Regions from separate parts of the Homo sapiens genome. Here region 1 is linked to region 2. Evidence: fine-mapped expression QTL. A gene starts in region 2. The other region holds a variant in brackets. All regions are shown on one strand. Distances are from middle to middle.

What was found. PIP is the estimated chance that this variant, and not a neighbour inherited with it, causes the effect. A credible set is the group of variants that fine-mapping cannot tell apart.
Region 1: its variant is the best candidate, but not a certain one, in a credible set for the expression of OPN5 in prefrontal cortex (CommonMind, PIP 0.58).

Annotation. Positions count from the first base shown.
Region 1 is chr6:47,876,946-47,889,134 of GRCh38, reverse strand. PTCHD4 (patched domain containing 4) reads left to right here. Exons shown (of 5, transcript NM_001384253.1): 5 at 9,199-12,189. The coding sequence ends at 10,832. Among named protein-coding and RNA genes, the nearest start is that of OPN5, 100 kb to the right of the region's middle. The variant G/T (reference allele first, on the strand shown) is at 5,904.
Region 2 is chr6:47,775,693-47,787,881 of GRCh38, reverse strand. It overlaps OPN5 (opsin 5), which reads right to left and starts at 5,850. Exons shown (of 7, transcript NM_181744.4): 1 at 5,686-5,850; 2 at 1,248-1,367. The coding sequence starts at 5,815.

The sequences.
Region 1 (12,189 bases), 100 kb before region 2:
AAGACACATGCACACGTATGTTTATTGCGGCATTATTCACAATAGCAAAGACTTGGAACCAACCCAAATGTCCAACAATGATAGACTGGATTAAGAAAATGTGGCACATATACACCATGGAATACTATGCAGCCATAAAAAATGATGAGTTCATGTCCTTTGTAGGGACATGGATGAAATTGGAAATCATCATTCTCAGTAAACTATCGCAAGAACAAAAAACCAAACACCGCATATTCTCACTCATAGGTGGGAATTGAACAATGAGATCACATGGACACAGGAAGGGGAATATCACACTCTGGGGACTGTTGTGGGGTGGGGGGAGGGGAGAGGGATAGCATTGGGAGATATACCTAATGCTAGATGACGAGTTAGTGGGTGCAGTGCACCAGCATGGCACATGTATACATATGTATCTAACCTGCACAATGTGCACATGTACCCTAAAACTTAAAGTATAATAATAATAAAACAAAAACAAAAACAAACAAACAAACAAAAAACTACAAAATAAATTGTCAAAATGACTGAATGCAAACTCTGGATGAGACTATATGTCTTTTATCTATACACTAAGATATATATATAAAATATACAACTGCTCTGAAAATTATACAATGAGAATCTGCTACTAAGTTTTATTTTTTCTTATTAGAGACCTAATAAAATCCTGTAACCTCCTGAGTGCTAAGGACTGAGTGTCTGTTCATGCTCATAATTATTTCCTCTTTTCTTTGCAATATTCTGCTCCTTTTCCCATCTACTCTTTTTTTTGGGGACTGAGTCTCGCGCTGTCGCCCAGGCTGGAGTGCAGTGGCGCTATCTTGGCTCACTGCAAGCTCCGCCTCTCGGGTTCACCCCATTCTCCTGCCTCAGCCTCCCAAGTAGCTGGGACTATAGGCGCCCACCACCACACCCGGCTAATTTTTTGTATTTTTAGTAGAGACGGGGTTTCACCATGTTAGCCAGGATGGTCTCGATCTCCTCACCTTGTGATCCACCTGCCTCGGCCTCCCAAAGTACTGGGATTACAGGCTTGATCCACCATGCCCGTCCCTACTCTCTGCTCTTTACTCTGACTCATTCTGTACTGGGATGGGAATATTTCAAGTGAAGTCACTTCTTGCTTAAGGACAAGATAAAGCGAGGCCCTCCCTCATTGAACAACATTATCAAAGGTTTCCAGGTAAAACCATCATACATGTCCCTGGCAGTAGCAGCTTAGAGAATTCCTGTTAAACACCCCCTACCCTTTGTGGGCTATATAAGAACCAAGAGGTAGAAGCTTTGGCCATTGTATAAATTGAGCAACCTTTGGGGCTTGATAATCATCTATTTACTTTAGATGATACTAAATTAGAAGCAGTCAGTATACAAATACACACTGATCATCACCTCAAGACTAGACATTATGGGGATTAGAAAATATCTAAAGAGTTCATCATCTCTCAGGCAAAAGGAGTGTCTTATGAACCTGTTTCTACCCTGTCAAAGAACAACATAGAACAAGTAATTTCATTTCATATTCCATTCTCTGTTAGATATCCATAATCCTGAACCAGCCAAATTAATGAATAATATGCTAATTTCCCAATTAGGTATAATTGACATCTATTTCCACCTCTGTCAATGTGAACTGAACAGAGGAGGAAATGGGAGAAAAATTCAGAATCACTGGGTGACACTCAGCAAGTTTCCTTCTCAGTAAAATGAGGCAAATAATATCTATTTCACAAAACCCATTGCTGAATATAGGGCTGTTAATAATAATTATTGTAAGAACTAATGATAAATAGTAACATTTATTATTATTAAAGTTATAATTTATATTTAATTCCTCAATAAATTTTATAAGTTATATAAAATAATTCTATTAAAAATGTATAGAGTAAATTACATAAAATATATTAAATATAAATTAATATATTTATATAGATTATACCTATTATTGTTAATCTAGTAAGTATCATTACAATAATAACTATTACAAGAAGAATGTGTTCAAATATCTTTAAAATTTCTACATGTAGATCATGGCCAATTCAGTTTTAAAAACATTTATTGAGCATTTACCATAAGCCAATAATTAATATACAAAAGTGAAAAAGGCAAGTGCCTAACCTGGCCAGTGAAGAGTTTCTGGACTGGCTAAAAGATGGGCCCACCAACGGGCAATCTCAGTCTAGCGTATAGTAAGTACTGTGATTTGGGTTGGAATACAGGGCAGAGATGTCTAAGTTGGTGGAATGCGGGTGAGTAGGGCAAGCGGAAAGTGTTAGAGATCACGCATGTTCGAGTGGTGAGATTATGCTTGAGAACATGCTAAGTAGGAATCAGCCAGCTAAAGAGAAGGAACAATGGATAAATGATCCCACATAATGCCAAAGAAGTGAACAATAACTTAAAATACTGATGTATTATCCAGACTTTTTTGCATCTGCTTTGCTGGACTGAGTTTTCAGTTGATTGTGGTTTTATTTTTTTTATTCATTATTCATTCATTTAGTTGGCATTGGGATGTCACGATCGGGGGTGATTTTCACAAACACAATTATTGAAAGTGTAGCTAACCAAATGAAGAAATAACTTCTAAGGGAAAGTAGTAAGCTTTCTTTGGAACAGGTCATAAAAAGGAGTATTTTTTTTTAACCTCTATTTCTTACGTCTCTCATATCGGTGTCAAGCTTTCATATCTTGATTAGCATGTTCAAGTGAAAAGGAAAACCCACCAGTATGTCTTCTGAAGGCAAATGAGAATTCTAATTCTGCTGATTAAAATAAACTAGAAACCCACAGATCATGCTTATTAAAGCAACATAGCAAAGAAAAACTCAGTAGAGAGCATTAATTGAGTCAGTTACAATTAGTTCCAATTGAATTTCATCCTCGTTAAAAGTATTTTCTTTGGAATTGTAGGTTTTGGAGAGATTGAGTGTAGGATTAAAATGGCAACTGTAAAAATGATATTGGATTTATAGAACAACATTGCTCTGGGAAAAAAAAAAAAAAAAATCTTGCCATCGCCGTGGCTCGCGCCTATAATCCCAGCACTTTGGGAGGCCGAGGCGGGCAGATTACTTGAGGTCGGGAGTTTGAGACCAGCCTGGCCAATGTGGCAAAACCCATCTCTACTGAAAATACAAAAATCAGCCAGGTGTGGTGGCAGGTGCCTGTAATCTCAGTTACTCAGGAGGCTAAGGCTGGAGAATTACTTGAACCCGGGAGGCAGAGGTAGCAGGGAGCTGAGATCTCGCCACCGCACTATGGCCTGGGTGAAAGAGTGAGACTCCGTCTCAAAAAAAAGAAAAAAGAAAAACTTCTCTTTAGGCCTAACTACGTCACCAGAGAGTTTTCCTACAGCAATGTTAGATGCAATTACAATATGGAAGCTTACATTAGAAGAGTAGGAGTTTGGAAAAAATGTTCTTAAAGGAAGGCTGGAGCTGTTTCTCAGAGAAGAACCATCTTACTTTAGAAGTCATCTTTATTTGTTGGAGAATGATTACTAGAAGCTCAAACGGAATTATAACCAGTTCTGAGTGCTCCCCACCTCACTGAGGACTGGTATCAGTTTTGTTTGGTAACAATAATTTTTTTTTAATTTAAAAACACTTAAATATTCACTCTGGCAGACCTGCACGACCATGACCATGAAGAACCTTCATGATCTTTATCTTTTTCATGTGGCTCAATTGCAAATAGCAGAACTTACCAAATCATTGTTAAATGGGGGCATGTTAGCAAGCTGCCATGTAGGTTTTCCTTATTGTTACACCATGCTTCTAATTGCTTTCATTTGGAAAGAGAGCTCCCCATCAGCATCCCATCAGACTTGTGGAGTACTCAATACACACACACACCCCCTTATTATTTCTATTCATCTCCCTCCTTGAATTTTTCTCCCAGTTTTTCCTCTGTCCAACTCTTTTTTACCCTTAAGAACTCTCTCTTTTATTTCAAAAAACTGTGCTAAAGGAAATATTAGTCATCTAATAATGTCCCGAGTGAGTTACTTATTATATTAATCTAATGCAGTGTGCAAATATATACTAATGTAATTCAGGGAAATCATGACCAAAGTGTGGCAGTCAGATTTTGGAACATAAATCAAAAATATACTGTGGACAATAGTATACCAGCTCGCTATAGCAGTGAGCTAATCTCTACTGAGGGAAAAAAAATAACAATTATAAACTTTAAACACACAACTACCTCTTCATAGTTTACAGGGGTTTTTGTCTCTATTCATGTTATCCCATCAGCCTAAACTGTCATTAACATCATCCTCTGCCTAAACCTTTTGAAGCTTTCCCTGATCCCTCAGGAAGAATCAGCCGCATTTTCATGGTACACAGCATACAGCCCTACTTAGTAAGAACAAAATTCCTCTTTATATATTAGGTAACTGCATGTAAAACAAGTCCAGAACTTGAATGGAGTTGTTCTTAAAACAAGCAGTGGCCTCAGGTGAGAATTAAAGATTTTGGTGGGAAAATGGGACAGACTCAAAGAACAGTTAGGACTGGGTACTGGGAAATAATATAATGTAGTTCCAATCATCATTCAGTGGGGCATGTCACATTTATATGTGATCCATGCATCACCTGAATTGGTGGGCCACCAGTGTCTTTGGGGTGGACACTGGTGCATCAGTTTGAGGTGGATTACTTGAATTGGATTAAGAATCTCTGAGTAAGGGTGGAACTGCAGGGAATAAAATACTATTAGAAAAAGCTAAAGAGAAAATTGGGGCTTCTTTCAAGAGAGCAGATGCTCGAAAAATGGTTCCAGCCTCAGAATGGAAACCAAAGTGAAAAGTAAGAAACAAAGACAGAAAACACTGCAGAAATTGGAAAACAGACTCTCCATGGTTGATTGGCATCTGGACAGAGTTGCAAGAGTAATCCTAAATTCTAATTTTTGGTTGGTAGCAATCCAGTTCTTTGAATTAGTTATATAGGTAGTTACCTATCTGAACAGATGGGTAGATACATAAATGAATATATACATACATACATACACACACACACACACACACATACATACATAAGCTTGGAAGATAAATAAACAAATGACTGGAATAAATTCTTGAAGTTGTTAACAGCAGTTTTCTGTGTTACGGGATTCTGGAATAATTTGTTTCACCACTATTTTTCATCTTTCCCAAATTTTCCATGGAAATGTATCCTGATTTTATAATCAGAAACAGATAATTAAGTATGTGTGTGTATGAGTGAGTATATTATTTCTTTTTCTTTTGACTAAACCAATAATTTTCAATTGAAGCCAAATTTGCCCCACAGGCAACATTTGACAATGTCTGAAGAAATATTTGGTTGTTATAACTGTGGGGTGTGCATCTGGCATCTAGTGGGTAGTGGAATGGTGCTAAACATCCTCCAAAGTTCATGACAGTCCCCGACAATAAAGAATTATCCAGCCCAAAGTGTCAATAGTGCCCAGTTGGGAAACCCTGGATTAAACAAATAAAACTTTTATTAAACTTTTATCTCTCCATACAATTAATTCCATTGATACTATACACAGTTATTTCATATTAATTAATTAAAGTTATTTTAAAGTCTAAAATCCTAGTAATATCTAGCATTTTAATAAATATAGACATTCTAAATGCATTAGCAGGAACTTAAAATAAATAATTATGCTGTTTTCACAGTAGTATATTTTCTCATTATACGACAATAGAAGTAACATCTACAAAAAGAAAACTCACTCTGACATATTCTCTTCTTTATTCATGCTCTTGCTTCTTTATTTTTAGAGAAGTATTGATGGCTTTGTTACAAGTGCCAATATAATTTTTTAGGTATATATCCCTATTTTTAAAGCAGTTGCATTAGAAGCTATAATCTTGGTCTCAGAATTACTTAAGTGAAAAT[G/T]ACTTTCTGGACAGTTGTTGAAAAAGATTGTGTTCCTTGTTTACCCTTATATCTTATATATCGGCTAGCAAAAGTTATTATATAACAAACTCTAAATAAATATATATTGCATTGAATGAAAGTAAATAGTATATAGCTCTTCTGGATACAATCGATATTTATATAGGTACAAAGATGTATAATAAATTTTAGAATAAGTAATAAAAAGATCTATTTTTGGACCCATCTAGAATCAAGAATTATAGTTTATTTAATTCAAAAAGAAGTTAATGGGCATCTTTTGGGCATCTATCACTTTACCAGATGTCCTGCAGAGTATAAAAGTAAGATAAAATGCATTCCCTAGCCATGAAGAATTTGCAATCCAACCAAGAGATAGAACATATCTTGAGAAAACCATTTAATTCCAGAGCAAAACAGCACATGGTTGTGGGCCAAAATGAGTGACTAGTTAGGGCAATAAAAATTTAAGGAATATATATATATATATCACTGGAATCATTAGAAATGGATTCATAGCAAATAGGAGACTTTAACTGACCCTTAACAGACCAATGAATAGAATTTTAATATGACCAGAATTGAGGAAAGTATTTTAAGGGACAGAAAATAACATAAACAAAGCTAAGAAGATAAGACTAATGAGGAACATGCACACAGGGCAGTGAAAGAGTTACCTTGACTGGAGCAGGCAATACATTTGAACTGCTAGAAAATGGGCAGATTATTGTGACAGTCAAATGAGTGAATATCAGTAGGAAAATCCTATAAAATATCTAAACATATGAGTGGGATAAAACACGCCATCTCCAAACAAAGTTTGGAAATTGTATTTTCAGTCTCGACCACATTTAAAGTGATTACCTAATCTAATATGGTTTAGTATCATCTTCCTACACCTACAGGCCTTTGTACTACATAAAGCAAAAATCTGGCCTACATAGTGTACCTAATGTTCCATAAAAATGACCACTATCAAAGGCAAGCCAAATTTAGCTGTAGCTCTATGTAGCCTTTCCCCACCTTGTGACTACAAAGATAGCAGGAGTCCTCATTTCTGAAGAGAGATGCTCTCATTAAAGAATTATTTTAATTACCTTAACCCTTATTCTAACATTGTATTTTAGTCAAGGGAATAATAGAGCAAGTACTGTATTCTGTCTCTTCAAGGAGTTTTGCCGAAGATAGGAATGAACAATTAACATTGTTAAGAATCATTAGACTAAATGTAATACACATATGTTGAGCTCCTGATAAAATGCAAGAAGGAACAGTTCATGACCTCCAAATGAAAAAAACGTGCCTTTTCCTAAATGCAGTTTACACGAACCTTTCTACTTGTTATGATAAACTCATCTTTCCTGATTGGAGACCCGTAAGAGACAGCTTTGAAGAATAAATAGGCTTTACATTAGCGGTAAAAAGAATTCCAATGCCTAGCTTCCTTTAGTAGCTATTAATAATTGATAAAAACTACCAAAAGTTTGGCCAATGTGTCTTTAAAAATCAAATATTTGCATTATATACATTTAAGTCTGTAAATACTATAGTCAAATTAACTATGAAGCAAGAATTCTTAGATCATCTTAAAAGAGGTTTTGGTAAATGTTAACTGACCTAGGAAACATTGTTGGTTAGGAATGGATTCAGCTGCAAGTAACAGCGTTACCTACAATGGCTTAGCCAAGATTTGGTTTTCTTAGAAGAGAATTCCAAAAGGAGGCAGACAAGATCTCATCCCAGTGGCTTCATTATACTATTTCAAACAAAATGCCCTCTGGTTTTCTAACAAGCATCCTTAGATGACCTTCAGTTACATTGCATTGTCCAGAACTATGTCACATGAAACACCTCTAGTTGAAAACTAGGCTGGGAAATAATATTTTCAAGTATGTACATTGTAGTCTCAAATAAAAGAAAGGGAGGAATTATACAGGTCAGTTAGCAAAAGCTATCGGCAATGCAATTTCAGAGCAATTGCAGTAAGACCCCAGCTATCACATCTTTGTTAAAGCACTACTAAGTAAATTAAGTTTGTAACACCTAACTCCAATATCTAAGTGCCACATTTAAGTCCTTTTTCCAGGTTTTCATAAACTAGTTGATTTTGTGCCTTTCAGCTATGTCTTTGTCTAATGGATTCCTTGGAGAACAGCCCAAGCACAGCTTGTATCCATTCACAGAAAAGGTTCCTATGTAGTATTGCTATGCCCACAAGGGCAAGAGTGATCTATGAAGATTTCCACTCACTCAGAAAGCTACCAATTGATATATTATGGATGGTCATTGACAGGTCCAATTCAGGGAAGTGAAAAAAGGGGAAATTGCAGATATAGTATAATACCTTTGTTTACTCAGCTGCTTTCTCCTTTTGCTAGTAAAAAAGTGGTAGTATCTTAAGAGCTATGAAATTCCTCAAAATTACAGCTCAGTAGCTACCAGAGTCTGGCATACACTGGGTGTTCAAGTAATATGTGTTGACTAAGCCTTTTGCCTACTTACTCTTATCAAAAGGGACACAAACATTGGTTTAAAACAAGTATTCTTCATTCACTTTAACGAAGCAGTCAAAAGCATTTAGTCAGCATCCATCTCACGTGAATCAGAGCTCTATGAGGAGCCCAAAGGAAGTGCTTGCTAAGATTTTTCACCCCGAAGGTCTTGCCCTGTCTTTTATGTGACGTGGCAGATTTTTTTTTTAAAAACTCACATCCGGAGCTAATTAATCAACTCTTTGGAAATTGGTTTCTAAGCCATTTGGCCACCAAGGAGATTATCAACATTATAAAATCAGTTTAGAGCCATTTTTAAGTGTTTAACATACTTTTATAATTTCCTAAATCAGCATATAAATCAGCTTGAAACAAAAGTTAGGAACTGTCAGTCAATGAATCAGTTAACCAAGCACTTGACATGATGTTAAGGGTCATTTGAAGGCGCACAAATAACGGCCCCTGCCGTTGACAAAACTGTCTATTTAGGAAGACAATATGTGTTCAGGGGAAAAACATCATGTAATAACGTAACATTATATTTACAACTTGTCACATTGATAGAACAGACAATACATGTTTCATTTTTCCCAGAATATCAATAAATTTGGGCTTTGCTAAAGTGAAACAGGGACCAAATGTATCCTGTCCATAACTCAACTTTTGAGGCCCTGATAGGAGGATCACAGCCCTTTGAAGATTAGAGTATAAAGTGCCATTTAGCATAGATAAACTATAAGGAATTCACTTGAGCCATAGGAGGAAATAAAAATAATTATTATTTTCTTTTTTTAAAACATTAGGTCATGGAACTAAAGGAGTGTTTGAGCTTCTGTCCGGATGGCGGAGAACCAAAGAGAACTTGCCCTTCAAAGACAGGATAGCAGATGCCTATTCTGATGTGATGGTCACCTATACCATGACCAGCTCCCTGTACTTCATCACTTTTGGCATGGGTGCCAGCCCATTCACAAACATAGAGGCTGTGAAGGTCTTCTGTCAAAACATGTGTGTCTCTATTCTGTTGAACTACTTCTACATTTTCTCCTTCTTTGGCTCCTGTCTGGTCTTTGCTGGCCAACTAGAGCAAAACCGCTACCACAGCATCTTTTGCTGTAAGATCCCTTCTGCAGAATACCTGGATCGCAAACCTGTGTGGTTCCAGACAGTGATGAGTGATGGGCATCAACAGACGTCCCATCATGAGACGAACCCCTACCAGCACCACTTCATTCAGCACTTCCTCCGTGAACATTATAATGAATGGATTACCAATATATATGTGAAGCCATTTGTTGTCATCCTCTATCTCATTTATGCCTCCTTCTCCTTCATGGGGTGCTTACAGATCAGTGACGGAGCCAACATCATCAATCTACTAGCCAGTGATTCGCCAAGTGTTTCCTATGCCATGGTTCAGCAGAAATATTTCAGCAACTATAGCCCTGTGATAGGATTCTACGTCTATGAGCCCCTAGAGTACTGGAACAGCAGCGTCCAGGATGACCTAAGAAGACTCTGTAGTGGATTCACTGCAGTGTCCTGGGTGGAGCAGTACTACCAGTTCCTGAAAGTCAGCAACGTCAGTGCCAATAACAAAAGTGACTTCATCAGTGTCCTGCAAAGCTCATTTTTAAAAAAGCCAGAATTCCAGCATTTTCGAAATGATATCATCTTCTCCAAGGCAGGGGATGAAAGCAATATCATTGCTTCTCGCTTGTATCTGGTGGCCAGGACTAGCAGAGACAAGCAGAAAGAAATCACAGAAGTGTTGGAAAAGCTGAGGCCCCTATCCCTCTCAAAGAGCATCCGATTCATCGTGTTCAACCCCTCCTTTGTCTTCATGGACCATTACAGCTTGTCTGTCACAGTGCCTGTTCTGATTGCAGGCTTTGGTGTTCTCCTGGTGTTAATCCTGACTTTTTTCCTAGTGATCCACCCTCTGGGAAACTTCTGGCTAATTCTTAGCGTCACCTCAATTGAGCTGGGCGTTCTGGGCTTAATGACATTATGGAACGTCGACATGGATTGCATTTCTATCTTGTGCCTTATCTACACCTTGAATTTCGCCATTGACCACTGTGCACCACTGCTTTTCACATTTGTATTAGCAACTGAGCACACCCGAACACAATGTATAAAAAGCTCCTTGCAAGACCATGGGACAGCCATTTTGCAAAATGTTACTTCTTTTCTTATTGGGTTAGTCCCCCTTCTATTTGTGCCTTCGAACCTGACCTTCACACTGTTCAAATGCTTGCTGCTCACTGGGGGTTGCACACTTCTGCACTGTTTTGTTATTTTACCTGTGTTCCTAACGTTTTTCCCCCCTTCCAAAAAGCACCACAAGAAAAAGAAACGTGCCAAGCGAAAGGAGAGAGAGGAAATTGAATGCATAGAAATTCAAGAGAACCCGGATCACGTCACCACAGTATGAGGGGTATAGACCAGTGGATTATTTTTCTTTTCCAGTATTGCACAATGATGCAGGGCAAGTAAAGCTCAGACCTCAGCTGCTTGGGCTGGCCAGGGGTAACAAGGCAAGTCAGATCAAGAGTGCATTATTCATGACACTTCAAGGTGCCTGCTTCTTGGGGGGAAGAGGGAATAAAAAAAGAGGAAAAAGTTATTTGCAACCTTGTTCTCCTCTAAAAACAAGTTTCTGGATGTAATCTGAGAGCTCTTCCAAGGAATGGATGAATCAATGGAGTGTTAAGATAGAAGGCCAAAATAACCAGCTTCTTTTAAAAATAAAATGCTTAGGAGTGATGGAGAAGCAAGGAAAGGTGTCCTTCAAATAGGGGGAAAGACATGGGAAATGTGCCATGGCACTTTTCATGCTTGTTTTTTGAACAGGTTGGTCAAAGGAAACCTATGCACTTGGGAAGTACATATTTAATACTGTCTAAACCAAAGGACTTCCCAATCCATTTTATGTGTACATATATATGTATATATCCCGTATATACATATACTTAGTTTTGTCTTTAGGGTACATTGACGTTTATGTGGAGGGAGCTGTCCATTTGAAGATAGGCTGGCTTTTCCCTAGAAAGTCAAATCAACCTTAGCCAAATTTATAGATTCATTAATAGCCGTTCTAAATCAACCCAAGTGTCTCAGCAGTCAGTGTGTCATTCAACTGTGGGATGAGCAAAATAAACAGAGATGTGAGTTCATTAGATTATGCATATCATGTCAGCAGTCATCTAGACTTTTGCTTTGGATGACTTCACAAGAAAACACAAAAGGCATTTGAATTAATTACCACATGGACAAGGTTTACTGTTTCATATTAGAAATAAACAGTTGATATGGATTTTCGTTGGCTTTTACTGTATTTGGAAGACTGATATGGCTGCTTTCAGTGAGCTCACCCAATTGCAAATGAGCGCTTTACACAGATTATCCATACATGAGTCTAAGGGTGCACAAGTATGTGTATGTGAGTTGGGGTACTCCATAGTTACACCGTTCTTATTTTAGATAGGGAAAATAACTGTCATGGAATATAGATAATTAACATAGGAGAAAGGAGACATAACTAGGAAACTCGTAGAGTGAAATAGAATAAAATGGACCATACCCACTCATCACATGCCATCTACTAGTTCTTAGCATAAGGAAACTATTCTAATCCTATAAACTCTAGTGTATTCCTTGCATTAGTATTTGGAACATAACCCAGGCCATGATCACTATAGTAGTGTTCACTACACCTACTGCAGTACCATTTGTAGCTTCTCACAATAGTGTTGCTCTTGTTACCTGGAAAGTGCTCCTCGGTTGGCCCA
Region 2 (12,189 bases):
TTTTTCACCCAGGCTGGAGTGCAGTGGTAGTACCATAGCTCACTGCAACCTTGAACTCCTGAACTTGATCAAGTGCCCAGCTATTTTTTATTTGTTTTGTTTAGTTTTACCCAATACCCAGACTTCAAGGATAAATTTGTTTTGTAGAGATGAAGTCCCACTACATTGCCCAGGCTGATCTTGAACTCCTGGCCTCAAACTTTATACCCATCTCAGCCTCCCAAAGCTTTGGGATTACAGGTGCAAGCCACTGTGCCCAGACACGAAATATTTTTTAAAGGAGGCTTTTGACGGGAAACTACTAACAAGTTTCTAATGGTAAGAGGAGCTGCTGTGTACTGTTCAAACAAATTACCCTACTCTAATGACCTAAAACCATAAGCTAAATAGCAGATGTTGGGATTCAAAGACAGATTAGAGTCCATCTAAGCAACTCTGAAGTTGTATAGAAGAAAGTGAAGAATGATTTACTTAAAATGGTTCATATTTTTTAAATTGAATTATAGTGAAGGAGAAATTTTTTTCCAACTCCTTGCCATGTTATTAGAGAAGTGAAAAAGAAGCCAGTGGTTCTCAATTTTGGCCACACATTAACATACCTGTAGATTCTCATTTTAAATATCCTGATGCCCAGGTAACACTCTCAACGACTTAATTCAGAACTTCCCCAGATGATATTTTGTGAGTTGCATTTGAGGACCACTGAACCAGAAGCTTCCTATGCTTGTGATATGTCACTAAGTCATGATTACATATATCATCAGCAGGGCACCTCTTTCCTCTTCCTACATTCACCTCTCAACTGCCTTCAACTGTCTTCAACTGTCATTTACCCTTCAAGATTCCTTTGTTGATGTTTATTTTAATCAGACTTCCATAAGGGTTGAAGAGGTGTAAAGAAGCTTAAAATACTGACCTGGGATTTGCCTCCTGATTTCTGATTTCTGAATCATTTAGCCCACTACACTTTGAGACATCTGAGGTATCACATATTATTTCAAATTGTGCCTTCAGCATCTAACATGCCTGACACACAGAAAAGACTCAATAAATATTAAATGAATAATCTTGTCAGCCGGACAGCACCCCATTGACTTACCACAAAACTCTGAAAGTTGATTTGTGAAGCGAAGAGTGGAAGGAGATGTGAAGGGAAGAGATGTCAGGGGGTGACGTTTGAGACAGTGAGTACTTTAGAATGGGGAGTAGTTTAAACCCACAAAGAAAACACAGCATGGTTGTGTTACCTGAAATCCCCAGATCACAGACTGCTAAATTGATAGTCATTATTTCAGCGGGTCTCAGCTTCTTCTTTCGTCTAGAAGACATGTAAAGGACATATCCATTTCCAAATGTGGACAGAATCCCTACAAGGAAAAATAAAAATTCCAATCGTTAAAACTAAGATTTCGAGTTCACTCAGATATGAAACACTTCTCAACTTCAAAAATGGACACCATAGATTTAGAGGGTAGTGAGAGGACTCTAAATAAAAAAATCTAAATTAAGAAGATGAAATAAAAAGCATGAGTTGTGAGTGACAGGCCAATGGGGCAGGAGTCAGGGATTATAAGACTGAACTTACCCAGAAAAAGGCATCGCTAACTTCCCCGCGAGGCTCAGGAAAGTGTGGGAATCCCAATGGTCAGTTCTTGTCCTGGCCCCCAGAGTGGAGTACTTTCCTCAGCCATTTTTATAGATTATTGGCTTTATAGAACTCCCTCCCTCTGATCAGTAGGGTTAAACCCTTAGCTCTTGATAAATTCTGAAGATGAAGCCAACCAAAGAAGGTGCCTTCAGTATCACTGTCAACTCCTAAGGGAGCACCAGTGTTCAGGAGAGGCAGAGGCCAGGTATGACTGGCATAACTCCCTTCAAGAAAATGGACATCTCCCAGAGACGCCCCAGGACTTCCGCCTCTTTGGGAGACATGGACACTGAGTGTCTGGCAGATAGGACAGCCTTCAGCTGCTACTGGACTAGATATCAAGGGTAAGTGGGTGACAATCGAGAACCTGGGCACTGTCCCTCCCACCAAGGGGAGAGAAAGTGACCCTCAACCCACCGAACCTACCAACAATGCCATAAGTGTGTTCCCACTTTTTCATATCCTTTTATTAATGACTAGTTGCCTTTGGCATTACAATGAAACTGTTCGAAAGTTCTTACAAACCCAGTTTAAATCCAAAAAGACCCAATCCCTACTGACTTTATTTAAGAAAAGAATACACCTACTTCCATAGCTTAACATGTAGAGTAGATTTCTTCAGGAATTCTTGCTTCATAGTGTAGCTGTGTATAAATGAGAATCTGGTACAGCTGCCTTTAGTAGTAAGGAATAAGGAGAGTATTAACAGGAGAAACCCAGAGTTTTCTATTTTAATTTCTACTTCTCCACCACAATTCATTTTGGGGGCAAAGAAAGAAATGTGTGATTCAGCTGATGGTATGAAACCACCAGGAACTAACTGCATTGTGCTCTTAGGAAATTCTGACTCCCTGGAGTCAGTGCTGCTTAATGGTCCATTAAAACCTCTTTAGCTTTCATAAAGCAGAAGAAGAGAAAAATAAAAGAGATTACGGAGTTCCAGAGCAAACCAACTAAAATGAAACAGGTCTCACTCAAGGAAACCAGCTAGGAAAGCAAAATGTGAAAACGTGGCTTGAAAAAGTATAAACTTAATGCCACCTACTTTGTATCCAAAAAGAGTAAAAACAAGTATCCATTTTCGTTTGATACACAAGGCTCATTGAAACACCTTTCATCTGTCTACATCTCTTTTGAAAATATTTGTTTTCTTACTTTTCCTTCCTTAAATTTTCTTTACTGACCCTGCTTCATAAGGTTTCACCCAGTGCCCAAAGCATTATCAAAAAATAGTCACCTCTCTATTCATTGCATGTAAATTATTCTAACAAGCAATATATATATGTTATAGATGAGTGTCAGGAAAAAGCAAATTTATTCTTAATATTACTGAAAAGACAACCAGATTAAGAAGATAAAGACCAAAGTGGGGACACTTTTAGATTATCAAATCCTATATCATTTATGGATACAAAAATATCATATATATTAACTGTTAATAAACTCAGTATTTACAATAATAGTAAAAGTGTGGAAGGTAGAAAATGGGTTTGTAATTTATGTCTCCTGTATTTCAAACTCAGATTTATATTGTTATCTTTCCATTGTCTCTTAAGACTTCTAGTATTTAACAAAGCCCACCAAGAATGTTTATTCCACTCTGGCTCCTTAAAAGCAATCTGGACACACACATCTTGGCCAGGCGCGGTGGCTCACGCCTGTAATCCCAACACTTTGGGAGGCTGAGGTGGGCAAATCACTTGAGGCCAGGAGTTCAATACCAGCCTGGCCAACATGGCGAAACCCCGTCTCTACTAAAAAACACAAAAATTAGCCAAGCATGGTGGTGCACACCTGTAGCCCCAGCTACTCAGGAGGTTGAGGCACAAGAATTGCTTGAACTTGGGAGATGGAGGTTGCAGTGAGCCGAGATCGCACCACTGCACTCCAACCTGGGTGACAGAGTGAGACTCTATGTCCAAAAAAAAAAGGAATCTTGCAACATCTACACTAGCCTATTCTAGGAGAGTGAAAACCAGACACACGGCCAAGTCCAAGAAGTGGATCTAGGGTGAGTCCAAACCCCTCCAGTCGACCCCTCTCCTCACCCTGCGTGACTGTTCTCTAACATACCATTGGCTCCACCTCCTAGTGCCCTGATCCTCCTGAAGCTCCCCCTGTCCAGGGACTCTTTTTCAACCTGTTTTTCTGGCTCCATCTCAGCAAACCCACTGGAATATGATTGTGGACTTTCCTTCCAACTCCATGTGTATCAGGTGGGAAATTCTCCTGATTTCCTCACCCTGGTTGCAATCCTCCTGCAATCCTCCCTGCTTAAGATTGGGAATGGACTGATAGGCCTCTCTGTTTTGTGTTGTCTGGAGAGATTTGTCAGGTTATTGATGTTACTTTTTTAATTCATTCCTTGAAAGTGATGGAGCTATGCTAAATACAATTGATCAAGTTGCTTATTTTTCTGCCTTTTCTGTTAATTGAAAGTACTTAAGTTTAATAAAAATGCAATGTGGATTTTACAGAGATAAGACAGTTTCTGTTCCAGCAGAATGTTTGCCCATTTTATTCTCTGCTCTATTCCCAGCAACTTAAAACAGTGGCAAAGAGTGGGCGCTCAATATATATTTATGTTGAAAAGAGATGGGGACTCATTTATAAGAAACAGAATTTAAACTAGTAAAACACTAACAACAATAAAGACAAAGACCCAGGGAATCACTTTACAGCAGAATTTGGTTGAATCACATGAGTTCCTTTTGCCTCAAGTACTGACCATAGAGGGATATCAAGTATTTTCTAATGAGTTTTGCTACTTTCAGGAGGTTAAATGAAATTCTTAGCCAGTAATAAATAGATGAGAGAGGGAGAAAAAGAGAGAAAGGGAGGAAGGGAAGAAGGGTGGAAGAGAAAGATAGAAACAAAGAGAAAAGAGAGAGAGAGCAAGTTTGACCCAACATCTGAAAAAATTAAAGGCAAACAAACCTAAAGACATAACCCACCTTCACACTGGTCACCCAAAGTTAAAACAACAATTTTAAATTTAAGAAAAGTATGGTTTCTTTTCTTAAATTTAAATAGGTGGTTAAATTAAATCCTAACTGTCTAGATTAGTGCTATCCAGTATAAATGTAATGTAAGCCAGAAATGCGAGCCACATATGGATTCTAAAATTTTCTGGTAGCCACATTAAACAAAGTAAAAATTTACAAAGTAAAAATTTAATTTATAAATTTAAAATTTACAGTAAATTAATTTTAATAATATATTTTATTTAGCTTAACATACCTAAAATGTTGTATGTTCAACATGTATTTAATTTTTAAAAATTATTAATGAGATATTTTATACCACTTTTTGTTGTACTGAGCCTTCAGTATCTGGTGAGTATTTACACTACAGCAACTTTCAATTTGGAAAAGCCACATGTGGCTACTGAATGAATGAGATCATGCAGTCTAGAAGCAGGTGCACCCTTTCGTCAATTATGCACAAAAATCTTTTGACCCCGGACTTTCTTCCATTTATCACCAACACATTTTTCAACTGTCACCAAAATGGCTTAGCTATTTTGATGCGACTTTACTTTTAGGTGAAGTAAACTCAGTGTTTCTGCCATTACTATAGTACTATAGCACAATAGCACAATTGAGTTTTGCACAGTTGTGAGAACAGGAGACTGACCTAGATTATTTTTAAGGCCCATTCTCAACCTAAAACTTATGATTATGTCAAAAACATTATTTAAAAAGCACTCTGTTTAAATAAAATATCATTATCATTAATTTTGGTATTCAGAAAGTAAATCTACTCCCAAAGTAACCAAAATGAAATGGATAAATAATTTTGCTGTAAGAGTTCTTGGATTATCAATGGAATTTTATTCCTAATAATAATGATAATAAAGAGTCATTTCTAGGAAACATTTATTGAATGCCATAATGCCATTCCATCTTCTGCCTTTCCCCACTCTTCGCCTCCACTAAACTATCCACTTAAGTATCAGAATCCTTTCACAAAATTAACATATCAGCCCATGAATTTTCTAAATGCAGCCTTTGCACAGAAGAATTAAGGAAGCTTACCAATTATTGTTAGGTAAAAGCCAGCCACTAAATCCGCTTCCCAAGAAAGTTTGGAAGCAAAAGGATCCCCATCTCGAAGGTAATGGGGCAGGCGCTCGTCCTGAGGCAGGGCAGTGTGATTTAACGCCATTCTGTTCTCGAACCACGAGGGATCTGAAAAGCAAACCAGTAGAGATCTCAGCAGACCTGAATAAGCCAGCTTGAACCATTTCATAATCGTGGCTCCTGTTTTAAAACAAAAAGCAAGTTCCCAGGGTCATGCATGATTCTCTAATTAATAACTGGTAAAAATTTTAACATTTTTTTCAATGATCCAATTATGTCATTACTCAGTTATTCGGTTGGCAGATTATCCAAGCCTTCATTTTCTCCTCTGTTTTCTCATGCTACTCTTTGAGCCACTTCTTTTCTCCTTGGGGTGATTAAAAGGTTGAAGGCCAAACTGTGCAATTTACTGTTTCTTAGCAATTTTTGTAAAGGTCTGAGCAGGAAATGATATTGTATGGAGTGTGCACACATACACACACACACACTATATATATATAATTTATGTATATAAATTATATATAATATATAAAAAATTTACATATGTATATATATAACTTGTCAGAATATAGTATTTTTTGATTATCCAGATTTCCCAGAAAATCATTTCCATTGTACATTCAATGAGGTTTAGAGTTTTGTAAGGAAAGAAATAGAGCATTCAGTACAAAGGAACATGGACACTTAATTAATTGAAGCTAAGAGCTAGGTGATTGTCAAAGTGATCTTGAAATTTGGAGCTATTTAGAAAGGATTCAAGCTGGGTTGTAACTCACAGGCACATCCACAGGAAGGTTTGTTTCTCAAGTTTCCTAGAGCAGAAAGCAATTTCATTATTTCTCACCACTGCCCCAAATCCATACTTTCTATTTGCTCATTTATGCTTCTGGATGAAATCTTGAGCATTGAGGAATTTCTCAGATACACAGGTCTTAGTACTGTTTCTTTTGAATTGGAGTTTTAAAAGGTTTACACAAAGTCTTTGATGGGCTTTCTGCAAAAATAAAAGTCACATGATATCCCTCATCCTGAAACTTGGAGTCGTGTGTTGTTCTTCAGATAAAGTATGCTGCTGATGTTAAAACTTCCTTTGGAAGGGTCATTCCTTTGTCATGATTGTTCCTATTTGTTTTGAAAGGGGAAGAAATACTAGTGTGGCTGTTTCTCTTTTGAACTTGCCTATTTCAAATCGAACCAACAGATGTCACTGTTCAGCTCTCTAGGCAACAATTTCGGGCATTATATGAGACAGCAAGTGGAACACAGAGTTGTGTGCCCCACAGGCGGTGACAGGGTGATCGGCACATATCTAACCATGTAATTCACCTTCGCAAAAGACATGAATTTAACCCCTTTCTAACTGCCAACTTACAGCTTACAGAGGAAGGCTAGTGACCCTTTCAGTGGCCAGTTGGCTGAAACTACAGTCTCCTACACACAGTTTGAGGACAGTCATGTGCTAATGTTCATTCCAAATCCTTCTCCCTGAGATGGTTAGAAAGCTGTAGGAGAAATCTTTGGCTGCCAGATGCACCACATCCCAAGACCTACCCCAGGTGAAAGTTTATCTTTACCTTTCAAACTCCTGATTCCCCTTTGACTGCCTCTTGTTCTGGTAAACTCTCTCCTCCCCAAAGATTGCCCCCGCCCAACTGGCTGTCCAGTCCTGTCCTCCACCTTAGCTTCAGAATCATAAGATGAAGGTTGGAGTCCAGCTGTGATACCCACCCTCTGATCTTGAGCAAATCATTTAAACTTTCTGAACTGCAACCACTTCATCTGTAAAATGGGCAGTCTCCTTCTTACCTGTCACTCATGCTTGTTGTAGGAGCAATAGGATATCGGACTCGAAAGCATATTATGAATGGGGGGTCCTGTATATTTATTATATGCTGAGATGCTTACTTTTCCCAAACTTGCCTATCCATCAAGATATAGCTATTGTATAAGAGATTTCCTCAGGGTCCCATGCTGAATCAATGGATGCTTGTGTGTTAACTCAAGTATTCACTGAACATCTACTACAAACCCAGCATTATGAGGTAGGACAACAGAGGTTTACCATGTTATCTAGACTTAGGGAGGGTATCTATCATTTTCTGGACAGAGAAAAGATGCAACTAATGGTCAGAAAATATAATAATAATACAAGAATATAAAACAATAAAATGCTGCTTTACTTGGTTTTAGAGAATTTTTTTGAGATAGGGTCTCACTCTGTTGCCCAGGCTGGAGTGCAGCGATGTGATCAGTGCTCACTGCATCCTCGACCTCCTAGGCTCAGGTGATCCTCCCAACTTAGCCTCCCGACTAGCTGGGACCATGGCACACGCCACAACACCTAGCTAATTTTTTTTATTATTATTATTTGTAGAGACAGTATCTCTCTATGGTTCCCAGGCTGATCTCAAACTCCCGTCCTGGGGTCAAGGGCTCCTCCCACTTTAGCCTCCCAAAGTCCTGGGATTACAAGTGTGAGCCACTGAACCTGGCCTAGACAATAATTTTTAAAGCAAGGAAATAATACTATTTTCTGAGGAATTAACTAGACTGTGTGTGTAATATCAAGAAGTGTCCTTCCTATATCGAGAAGTACCCAGGCCTTGCACAGCCTAAGACTCGATATGTTAATAATGAAAATGATAACATAAAACTTCACTTGAGCCCCCAAGGGGCTTTAATAAGCAACGAAAACAGTAGAGAATATTTTCAGTAAGAAAATGACATGAGCTAAGATTTGGAGGAAAAAATGAACATAAAGTGTATAAGGGATGGAAAAAGAGTTGTTCCATGGGAACAGAGTTCATCATGGAGAGAAGTGGTAGCCATCTTGGCTTGGTAAAATGGGATCTTGTCCTGTAGAGCCTTGCCTGCCTGGCAGAAGAGTTGCTTTTGACATATCATAGGTGGACTTATTTTTTTTCTGACACTGATCAAAATTAATGCTATTGTTTAAGTTTGGAAATACAGTGTTTGAGAGTTTCTAGTTCTTTTCAAAGACACAACTTAGACACAACTCTTCCTGAGGAACACTGCGAGAAAGAGGCAGAGAATCCTAAATACATGGTTATTTGGGAATTCTTTTTTTTTCCACTCTTCTTTATACATTACAAACTCATTTTTCAACTTCACACTTTACACTTATTTTCCCCATATGTAATTTGTGTTCCATTTCTTCTCAGTCTATCCAAATTCCACTTGACCTTCAAGCTTTTATCCAAAGTCTACATCCTTCAGAATATAAAACTGGCTCCTTCAGTCACTACTAAAATACTCCTAGGAGAAATTAATCCACTTAATTTACCTAATTCTTCCTCTGGTTTACCTACACATGAGTAAAATAACTTTCAGTTCATAAAGAAATTAGAGGTACCAGTGCATAGTATGGGATCATTATCATTATTTTGTTGAGGTGCTATTTCATCATTGATACAGAATTATACTTTTTGCTGAAAACAGGCTATAGCAATGCAACCATCATAAATATTTTTGCAGAACACTAACTGTACTACTTAAAATAATAAATGCAACACATAGTCATGACTGAATTTGTTCAGAGATATGTTTTAGAGAGTTTCTTTTTCAGTATTGAATGTGCCTGAATTACCTCATTGTGTAAATAAAATAGTCATTTGTCGATTCCTTCCCTCTTTTACCTCCTGTATTTGAAGATTGCCTACCGCCCATAGTAGATAGATGCTGTCCTATCTACCTTCCCAGGTGGTCAGGGCCCTCAACACCACATCCCCCAGTTCCCTGGGATGGCATCCTATGATCAAACCAATGGTTCCCAATCAGCTGCATATCTGAATCTCTTATGTACTTATTTTTTATTTTTTGTATATTGTTATTGTTGTATTTTGTATTGTAGCTATTCTTTAGGTACTGTAGTCTGGGTACAACTTCCAGGGTCTATGATATTATTTCCAAGAGGATCAGTTTGTCGAATTTTGTAACCATGGAAGCTTGCCTTTCTTGCACAATATTTCATGGCACTATTGCTTGGGAAACAACATATGGGGGTTGGAGGAAAGTATCCTGTTTAAAAGTGGAGGAGAAACTAAATGACTTGTCAAAATTTCTGCTGAATTTATGATTCTGTGAAAGATATAAATGAAACTTCTTGGAGTAAGTTGTATGTGATTATTCATGTTAGCATAATCCTTTAAGCCATAAAATATACTCCACTGCTCTCACATCTGCTAATCAATGGTCTTTTGGACCATGAATAAATCTTCCTAAGACTGTTCTCATAACAGCTTATTATGGAAAAAGCTGAAAACATCTCCACTCTTCATCACCCATAAAAGTTTTAAATATCTTTTGAGTTACCAGAATTAGCCATTTAAAATCCTGTATTATTCCACAATGAAAAATTAAAGAATATCTTTAGATGTAGCCAGAAGTCCTCATGTCCAAATTGAATGGACTTACAAATAGGTATAAGCAAATACGGAAGAGAGAATGGCACAGGTTCCCCTCCTAACAGGAAATAAACACAAGTTCGTACCAAGAAACAGAGTCCAACTCTGTTAGACTCTATCTAGTCTTAAAATTATCTTCAAAAAATATTTGGCAATAAATTTCCCCTTGACCTGCTAAATTTTCCCTGGTTTAATGCAGGAAATACCAAAAAGCATGGGCAGTGTGGAGAGCCACTTATGCAAGGTGAAAGTGACCTGCCCAAAATGGTCTTCTCCACTGGCCTGCTCTGGCTTCTGAAACTTTTGCCATTTTTTGCCTGAAGCATCATCACCACGAAATTTCTTTCTAGGGATATACTATCTGAGAACATGAAATTTGAATCTACCGGAATCCATGAAAACTTCAACATAAAGTAGTTTCTGAAATTAGTTACTTGAAACCTAGTAGAAGCCAGCAGACCTCAAAATAGGTGTAAGATGGTGCAGAGTAAGTTGGAAACAAACATCGAAGGCCAGGAAATGTTCAGGAAGTTAACAAAGAAACACCCACGAACTAGAGAGATGTCCAAGAAAGGTAAGCAGATAATATTCAATATCTCGAGGTAAAATGTGCTCAGTGTTAAGCCTGATAAAATGTAAGTAAGGAAACATAGTTTATTAAAAATTCAGAAATCCTTTAGCTGGTTTACACAGGTCTTTAACAAGTGGGTGATTGCCCATTTCCACTACTGTTCAAAAGGATTACCCACAATAAGCCTACAGGAAAAAGGATTTGTGGTCAGATTCATTTTTATACCAACTTCAGAAATTTGTGCCAGCCTCTAGGCTGGTGTCTTATGATAAGGGACCAACAATTCAGGACTAAGCTTCTTTCACTCAACCCCAGCGAGCCAGCTGGCATGGGCCATGATTGTGTGCAGGGACGACCACAATGAAGACCAGCAAGTTTTCCCAGTCGTCCAGGGACAACCACACTGGAGACCAGTCAGTTTTCTTCCGTTACTCCTTCTGCATGCTAGCCTCTCTCCTGTCTCTATCGACCTTCGGATTTGACCTCCCCATTTGAGCACCACAGTGGTTTCAAGCACCTCCCCTTTCCTTTCCTATCAAAATCTTCTCTAAAAAAATGGAATTGATAAATCTTGTTGACATGGTATGACATTTATAATACATTTTATGGAAAAACACTAATTATCAAAGAGTTATGAAGCATTTTTAAGCGAGAGAAAACTATAGAGAAAGATACCTAGAAATATATATGCCAAAGTGTTAAAATATATTTTTATTATGTATAGTGTTAGCATGGTTATGATGTATAATGATGTTAGGAGTAATTCTTTCTTTACTTTTTATTTGGAGAGTGAGGATACTTGGTAATATAGCCACTTTTTTAATTGTTTAAAAATGGCATACTAATTTTGCAATATTGTCTATATTTTTAATAAAGAATTTGTTACAAATTATAACATTAGTGAAATTGCTACACCCATCCATTTATTCATTCATATATTTATTTACCACGGATTATGTGCAGGCGCCTACTCAGTCTATAAATTACTTCCCTTGGAAATTTGCCATTAATGAGATGCCTTACAGAAGCTGAAATTGAAGGTTTTTCTGCGAAAGACCTACTCACAGCCCTGAAGTCTCCCCACATAGGTAAGCAGCTCACATCTGTGCTCTAAGCATGTGCCAGCACTGCCTTGGATGTGTGTCAGCCAGAGGTCACACCTTAAGGATTTTCTTCCTAGTAATTGTGTCTCTTCTTGCTCATGAAGTATTCTATAAATTCAAAAAATTTAAGCTGTGCTCTTCATAATTATTTTTTTTCTGTGTCAGCATCTATATGTGCTTAACATGCAATAAGCCATAATGATACCAATAGTGATATGTCATAGATCAATTCTGTATTCCAGTGAAAAGATTTGGATTATTTTTACATCTATTATATAAGAATATAGTGTTTTTCTTTTATACATGAAAAGAAAAACCTGAAAGCACCTTGACATGCAAAGTAGCAATCAAGAAATAAAAT